Linked DNA regions of Homo sapiens: region 2 is linked to region 1. Evidence: fine-mapped expression QTL. Tissue or cell type: whole blood. Region 1 holds a variant in brackets; the other region holds the start of a gene. All regions are shown on one strand. Distances are from middle to middle.

Region 1 (4,238 bases):
TTTCAAGCTTTAAGACCACAGGGTCAGGCCGGGCACGGTGGCTCACACCTGTAATCCCAGCACTTTGGGAGGTCGAGGTGGGTGGATCACTGGAGGTCAGGAGTTTGAGACCACCTTGGCCAACATGGTGAAACCCTGTCTCTACTAAAAATACAAAAATTAGCTGGGCGTGGTGGCGCATGCCTATAGTCCCAGCTACTCGGGAGGCTGAGGCAGGAGAATGGCGTGAACCCAGGAGGTGGAGCTTGCAGTGAGCCGAGATTGCGCCACTGCATTCCAGCCTGGGCAACAGAGCGAGACTCCGTCTCAAAAAAAAAAAAAAGACCACAGGGTCAATTTCTATGTTTATTGAAAAGAACTGTCTATGGCAACAATCCCTAACCTTTTTGGCACCAGGGACCGGTTTTGGAGAAGACAATTTTTCTTTTTCTTTTTTTTTTAGAGACAGAGTCTTGCTCTGTTGCCCAGGCTGGAGTGCAGTGTCGTGATCTCGGCTCAATGCAACTGCCGCCTCCCAGATTCAAGCCATTCTCCCACCTGAGCCTCCCGAATAGCTGGGATTACAGGTGCACACCACCATGCCCAGCTAATTCTTGTATTTTTAGTAGAGACGGCGTTTCACCATGTTGGCTGGGCTGGTCTCAAACTCCTGACCTCCGGTGATCTGCCCACCTCAGCCTCCCAAAGTGCTGAGATTACAGGCATGAGCCACTGCACCCAGCAGACAACTTTTCCACAGACTGGGGTGGGGGATGGTTTCAGGATGATTCAACTGCGTGACATTTATTGTGCACTTTATTTCTATAATTATTACATTTTAATATGTAATGAAATAATTATGCCACTCTGCATAATGCAGAATCAGTGGGAACTCTGAGCTTGTTTTCCCGCAACTAAGACAGTCCCATCTGGGGGTGATGGGAGACAGTGAGAGATCATCAGTCATTCGATTATCCTATGACCCAGATCCCTCGATGTGCAGTTCACAATAGGCTTCATGCTCCTGTGAGAGTCTAATACCACTGCTAATCTGACAGGAGGCAGAGGTCAGGTGGTCATGCAAGCAAAGGAGAGTGGCTGTAAACACAGATGAGCTTTGCTTGCTCACCTGCTGCTAACCTCCTGCTGTGTGGCCTGGCTCCTAACAGGGCACAGATCAGTACCGGTCTGCGGCCTGGGGGATGAGGACCCCTGTTCTATGAGACTGTTGGGTGGGTTTCAGGATGACAGGTGCACACCACTGCACTCAGCCTCTCTTCCTTCTGCCTCAGCCACAGCTGGCACTTTCTCAGCTCCATCCTCAGGGGAGATGCTGAAACCTCTTGTGCCTGCCCGTGCTGTTGCTGTACATTTGTCACGACAGCCTGGCAGGGGCTCCCCATTGAGGCTGTCGGTCAGACTTGAAGTCCATCTGTTGTTCTTTTAAAAAAAAATTTTTTTTTAGATGGAGTTTCACTCTGTTACCCAGACTGGAGTGCAGTGGCGTGATCTCAGCTCACTGCAACCTCCACCTTCCGGGATCAAGTGATTCTCCTGCCTCAGCCTCCTGAGTAGCTGGGATTACAGGCACCCACAACCATGCCTGGCTAATTTTTTTGTATTTTTAATAGAGATGGGGTTTTGCCATGTTAGCCAGGCTAGTCTCAAACTCCTGACCTCAGGTGATCCACCCACCACAGCCTCCCAAAGTGCCGGGATTACAGGTGTGAGCCACCACACCCAGCCATGAAGTCCGTCTGTCGTTCTGTCTCTGTTGTTCTTCATTCGATCCGGAGTCGCCACCTCATTGTCAGTATGTTTGATTACAATCTGTCTGTATCATCCAGACAATCACTTAA[T/C]CTGGCTCATCAAGTAGTTAGACCTCTAGGTAAGTATCTCACTGCTGTCCCACCTGGGAGTCTATCTCAGATGGCTCTGCCCTGTGCTGTGATGCTATGATGGTTAACACCTGGTGTCAACTTGACCGGATGGAGGGAGATGCCTGGATGGCTGGTGAAGCATTGTTTCTGGGTGTGTCTGTGAGGATGTTATCAGAGGAGGTTGATATTTGAGTCCGTGGGCTGGGAGAGGAAGACCCATCCTCAATGTGAGTGGGCACCATCCCATCGGCCGCCAGCGTGGCTAGAACAAAGCAGGTGGAAGAAGGCGGGAGAAGCTGGCTTGCTCGCTGAGTCAGCTCCCTCTCTCTTCCCCTGCTGTGCCAATCACTTGGTTTCCTCTCCTCCTACCCTTGGACATCAGGCTCTAGGTTCTTTGGCCTTTGAACTCTGGCACTTGCACCAGTGGCCTCCCAGGTGTTCTCGGGCCTTTGGCTGCAGACTGAAGGTTGCACTGTCTCCTTCCATGATTTTTGAGGCTTTTGGACTTGGACTGAGCCACACTACCACTTTCTGTCTTTCCCGGGCTTGCAGACAGCCTACTATGGGACTTCGCCTTATAATTGTGTGAGCTAATTCTCCCAAATAAACTCCCTTTAATATTGTGTTAGGCTGTTCTTTTTTTTTTTTTTTCCTCAAGATGGTGTCTCATTCTGTCACCCAAGCTGGAGTGCAATGGTGTGATCTCAGCTCAGTGCAACCTCCACCTCCCAGGTTCAAGTGATTCTCCTGCCTCAGCCTCCCAAGTAGCTGGGATTACAGGCACCCGCCACCACACCTGGCTAATTTTTGTATTTTTAGTAGAAATGGGGTTTCAACATATTGGCCAGGCTGGTCTCGAACTCCTGACCTCAAGTGATCTGCCCGCCACGGCCTCCCAAAGTGCTGGGATTACAGGCGTGAGCCACCACACCCAGCTGTGTTAGGCCATTCTTGCATTGCTATAAAGAGATACCTGAGACTGGGTAATTTAGAAGAAAAGAGGTTTAATTGGCTCATGATTCTACAGGCTGTCCAGGAAGCATAGCAGAGATATCTGCTTCTGGAGGGGCCTCAGGAAGCTTCCAATCATGGCAGAAGACAAAGGCGAAGCAGGTGTCTCACATGGCGAAAGCAGGAGCAAGAGACAGCGTGGCAGGGGAGGTATCACACACTTTTGAACAACCAGATTTTATGTGAACTTTGAGTGAGAGCTCACTTATCACCATGGGGATGGTCCAAGCCATTCACGAAGAATCTGCCCCTATGATGCAAAACACTTCCCACCAGCCCCCACCTCCAGCACTGGGGATACATTTCAACATGAGATTTGGGTGGGGACAAATATCCTAACTATATCTCACACACACACACACACACACACACACACACGCATATCCTATCAGTTCAGTCCTGGACAACCCTGGCTAACACAGATTTGTGATGACCTGCAATATACCATGTCCTCATCCCTGGATCCTGTGAACATCACTTTATATGGCAAAAGACACTTTGCAGACGTGATGATGGATTTCAAGATGGGAGGAGCTCGTGTGGTAAAGAATTTGTCCCTGGTTCCTGCTAGGAAGTGTCTAAGTCCTTGGAATTTTCCAAGTGCTGTGAGTCTTTGTTATTCATCAGGGCCCTGGACCACACTTGGGTTTATATGAGGGGGTGGCTTAGGATGGGTGCTGGTCATGCCAGATACATCAACCATGAGGGTTGGAATTTGCAGCCACTTGACCAAAAGGGGGACTGGAGATAAAGTTCAATCACAAGGCCAACGATTCAGTCAATCTTTCCTGTGTAATGAGACCCCACTAAAAACTCCCGAGGCCTTGTGAGGTGGCTCATGCCTGTAATCCCAGCACTTTGGGAGGCCAAGGCAGGAGGATCACTTGAGCTCAGGAGCTCAAGACCAACCTGAACAATATGGTGAAACCCCGTCTCTACAAAAAATACAAACATTAGCTGGACAGGGTGGTGACATGTGCCTGTAGTTCCAGCTACTCGAGAGGCTGAGAGGTGGGAGGATCACTTGAGCCCAGAAGGTTGAGGCTGCAGTGAGCTATGATTATGCCACTGCACTCCAGCCTGGGCAACAGGGCAAGACCGGGTCTCAAAAAAAAAAAACAAACAAAACTGAAACACTGAAGGAGTAATTGGATCAATCCTGCCTACATACTGAAACCCCAAAAAAACTCAGGACACCGAGCTCTGGAGCTTCCTGGCTGGTGAACCCATCACCCTGAGAGTGGGGAAGGCATAGAGAGAGTGATGTGTGCTGACGTTATGGGGAAGGACACAGGAGCTCCGTGTTTGGGACCTTCCCAGACCTCACCCTATGTATCTTCTCATTTGGCAGGTCCTGATTTGTATTTT
Region 2 (4,238 bases), 21 kb before region 1:
TTCTTTCCTCATTCGTAAAATGATGATACCAAGAACACCTATACTGTTGGTTGGTGATCTGTGCTAAAAATATCACCAGCGTTTATTATAATTGCCTTGCCTGTGTGACCTCAGCCAAGGATTCAACCATTCTCAGCCTCAGTTTTCCCCTCTGTAAAATGGGCTGATGACAGCACCCAACTCATGAGGCCAAGATAGGATCCAATGAGATCACAGCATACCTGAGGTTTTTGGTGCCGGGCTGCGCACAGTGGGTCTTCGGATTCTAAACATTTATGAAACATCTACTCTGTGCCACGTCCCACTGAGAAATGCTAAGAGCCCATAACCCAGGCCTCAGCCTTCTCCTCTGCCAATGTCCCCAGGGCATCTGTAAAGTGCTCTGACTTTATTTATTTATTTATTTATTTATTGAAATGGAGTCTCGCTCTGTTGCCCAGGCTGGAGTGCAGGGGCACGATCTCGGCTCACTGCCACCTCCACCTCCTGGGTTCAAGCGATTCTCCCGCCTCAGCCTCCCGAGTAGCTGGGACTATAGGCACGTGCCACCATGACCAGATAATTTTTGTATTTTTAGTAGAGACGGGTTTTCACTATGTTGGCCAGGCTAGTCTCAAACTCCTGACCTCATGATCCGCCCGCCTCGGCCTCCCAAAGTGCTGGGATTACAGGCGTGAGCCACTGTGCATGGCCTATTTTTTTATTTTTTGAGATGGAGTCTCGCTCTGTCACCCAGGCTAGAGTGCAATGGCACCATCTTGGCTCACTGCAACCTCCACCTCCCGGGTTCAAGCGATTCTCCTGTCTTAGCCTCCCAAGTAGCTGGGACTACAGGCACCCACCACCACACCTGGCTAATTTTTGTATTTTAGTAGAGACAGGGTTTCACCATATTGATCAGGCTGGTCTCGAACTCCTGACCACAGGTGATCTGCCCTCCTCAGCCTCCCAAAGTGCTAGGATTACAGGCGTGAGCCACTGCGCCCGACCAAGTCCTCTGACTTTAAAGCATCTACTATGTGCTGAGGAGCATGGGACTTGGGGTCCTTCAGGCCTGGAGGTCACGGGCTACCTTCTTTCGCTGCTTGACTATAGGTAAGTCCCTTCTCTCGGAGCCTCAGGGAGGTGGGGTGTGGCGCGGCCAGGCTCTGATTAGCGGCAGCTCAAGCTGGCCCTTTTGACATTGTGAGAGGAACCCAGAGACCATCCTGGGACTGGAACTGTCCAGGGAGGCAGCTGGACAGACCTGAGTCCGAGTCCTGGCTTCTTCCTGGATGAGCAGCTCAGTTTGCTCATCTGTAAATTGGGAGTATTCAAAGCACCAGCACACAGTAGGTGCTCAGTAAACCTACTGGCAGGATGCTGGGGGACTGTCCTCATTCTGTGGGGCCTCTCTCAGTGGAACTGAGGTTCCAAGAGGGTAAGTCATTTGTCCCCATCACGCAGTGGTGGGACTGGAACTCAAACCCGGGACCCTTGAGCTGGGAGCCCATTTGCTCAATCATCTGGAGACATAATCTCATGGTGGGGTGTCTACTGGTAAGTGCTGGGTGGCAGGATCCCAACTCCAGGCCGTCCTTCTAACCCAAGAGGTCCTGCCTCTGCCTAGAGTCTTCCATGGCTCCCCAGGGCCCTCTATGATCGGCCCAGCGCACTCACCAAGCTCATCTCAGACCAGATGGCCTGCTTTCACTTCCCCAAATCAGGGACTCGAATGCCTCGAGATTCTGTCCACACTGCGGCCCCCACCCCCGCCCCCTCACCACCCACCACCTCCCTTCTCTGGTTGTGACCTCCTGCTGGTCATCCCTTGAGGCTCAGCCCAAGGTCGTTTCTTCCAAGGGCGCTTTGATCTCCACTTCCCATGGCCAACCCCCAACACACCAGATACGTACTCACTTAGTGGAGTTTGGAGCCTGTGTCTGTCCTCCTAGTGTGTTGGGGTCGACCAGAGCGATTGGCAGGGACCGTCAGAGACAGAGGTTTAAGCAGGAAGAGAGACACTTTCTTCTGAAAGTAGAGCCACTGACAGCTTCTATTTTCATAGACCTAAATATGGGCTTGCCACCCGGATAACATTACACGCATGGCCTCTCCTGGTGCTCCCCACACCCGGGTGAAGTCCGTGTTATTATTATCTCCATTTCTCAGGTAAGAGAATTGGGTGAGAACTAGAGATGTTAAGCAGCAAGTTCCCACAGGGCTGAAGGAGGTGAGTGGTAGCGTCAAGATGTGAACCACTGTTACTGCACACTGAATCATACCACTATGGCCGATCACAGAGGGCCCTGGGGAGCCACGGAAGGCTCTAGGCAGAGGCAGGGCCTCTTGGGTTAGAAGGACGGCCTGGAGTTGGGATCCTGCCACCCGGCACTTACCAGCAGACACCCCACCATGAGATTATGTCTCTTGATGATTGAGCAAATAGGCTCCCAGGTCAAATGTCCCAGGTTTGAGTCCCAGCAAGAAAAAAGGGAAGAGGAGAGAGAGGCAGAGGAAGGGGAAAAAAAAGACAGAAGGAAGGAGAGGGAGAAGGAGGAGTAGGAGGGAAGGAGGGAAGCGGGGGGAAAGAAAGATACGTGAGATAATATTCAGGTCAAATATGGACAGTTTTGGCTGGGCACGGTGGCTCACGCCTGTAATCCCAGCACTTTGGGAGGCTGAGGTGGGAGGATCACTTAAGCCTGGGAGTTCAAGACCAGCCTGGACAACATAGCAAGCCGTTGTCTCTACAAAAACTATAAAAACTAGCAGGGCATGGTGGTGCATGCCTGTGATCCCAGCTACTGGGGAGGCAGAGGTGAGTGGATCACTTGAGCCCAGGAGTTCAAGATCAGCCTGGGCAACACAGTGAGATGAAAGAAAGAAAGAGAGAGAGAAAGAGAGAGAGAGAGACCGGGCACAGTGGCTCACGCCTGTAATCCCAGCACTTTGGGAGGCCGAGGCAGGTGGATCATCTGAGGTCAGGAGTTCAAGGCCAACATGGTGAAACCCTGTATCTACTGAAAATACAAAAAAAAAAAAAAAAAAAAAAAAATTAGCTGGGCATGGTGGTGGGCACCTGTAATCCTAGCTACTCGGGAGGCTGAGGCAGGAGAATCGCTTGAATCCGGGAGGCAGAGGTTGCGGTGAGCCGAGATCGCGCCATTGCATTCCAGCCTGGGCAACAAAAGCTAAACTCTGTCTCACAAAAAAAAAAAAGAAAAGAAAAAAGAAAGAAAAACAGAAAAGAAACACCAAACTCCATCCCAGCCCCATCCTGGAACTAAGACTTCATCCCCATGTCCTCACAACATGGCCCAGCTGGACTTATTCCCAAGCTTCCTCCTCCTTCTCCTCGTGTGTCCCCATTGGTGGGACAGTCCGTCCATCCACCCAGACACCCCGGCCCAGGTCCAGGCCTTGTCCAAGCACTTCCCGATCTTCCACCCCACCGCTCACCCAGCACCCGCGCCTGGCTCGTCTCAAAAAAATAACCTGCTTCTCCCCATCCCCACAGCTGCTCCCTCTTCCCCCTGGACCAGGTGACATCCCCCTCTTAGGGTTCCCCCTGCCTGGTTTGCCTTGTCCCTGGGACTGCCTCCTCCATGGCCTCCCCACTCTCATCCTGCCCCCATGACAGCCTTCCCTGGGGCTCTACCTCCTGTCTTGCCCCCCAAAACAGACCCTCCAGGGTCCTCACTCCCACCTGGCCACCACGGCAGACCCCCCCTTAGGATCCCCAACCCGACCTGCCCTCAAGACTAATCCCCCAGTGACCCCACCCTGGCTTGGCCTCAAATGCTGTCCCTATGTCCACTCAGCAGCCCCCAGCCACCTCTCCAATGCTCAGCGGCCAACTCTTTCCCTTCCTTTTTGATTTTTTTTCTTTTTTTGAGACAGAGTCTTGCTGTGTCATCCAGGCTGGAGTACAGTGGCATGATCTCAGCTCCCCATAACCTCTGCCTCCCCGGATTCAAGTGATTCTCCTGCCTCAGCCTCCCAAGTACCTGGGATTACAGGCACGCGCCACTACACCTGGCTAATTTTTTGTATTTGTAGTAGAGATGGGGTTTCACCAAGTTGACCAGGCTGGTCTTGAACTCCTGGTCTCAAGTGATCCACCCACGTCGGCTTCCCGAAGTGTTGGGATTACAGGCATGAGCCACCGCACCCGGACCCTCCCTCACTTCTTTACCATCTTGGTCCTCGGCCATTACCCCAGATCAAGGTGGAGGGGACATTTTGGGACCCAAAAT

The links. PIP is the estimated chance that this variant, and not a neighbour inherited with it, causes the effect.
Region 2: it holds the start of FCER2, and the variant in region 1 is fine-mapped to the expression of FCER2 in whole blood (TOPMed, PIP above 0.99).

Annotation. Positions count from the first base shown.
Region 1 is chr19:7,721,256-7,725,493 of GRCh38, forward strand. No RefSeq gene overlaps it. Among named protein-coding and RNA genes, the nearest start is that of CLEC4G, 8.7 kb to the right of the region's middle. RefSeq lists an enhancer at 1-273. The variant T/C (reference allele first, on the strand shown) is at 1,839.
Region 2 is chr19:7,700,120-7,704,357 of GRCh38, forward strand. It overlaps FCER2 (Fc epsilon receptor II), which reads right to left and starts at 2,012. Exons shown (of 11, transcript NM_001220500.2): 1 at 1,896-2,012. It overlaps LOC105372262 (a long non-coding RNA gene), which reads right to left. Exons shown (of 5, transcript XR_936296.2): 5 at 2,961-3,002. RefSeq lists an enhancer at 1,899-2,008.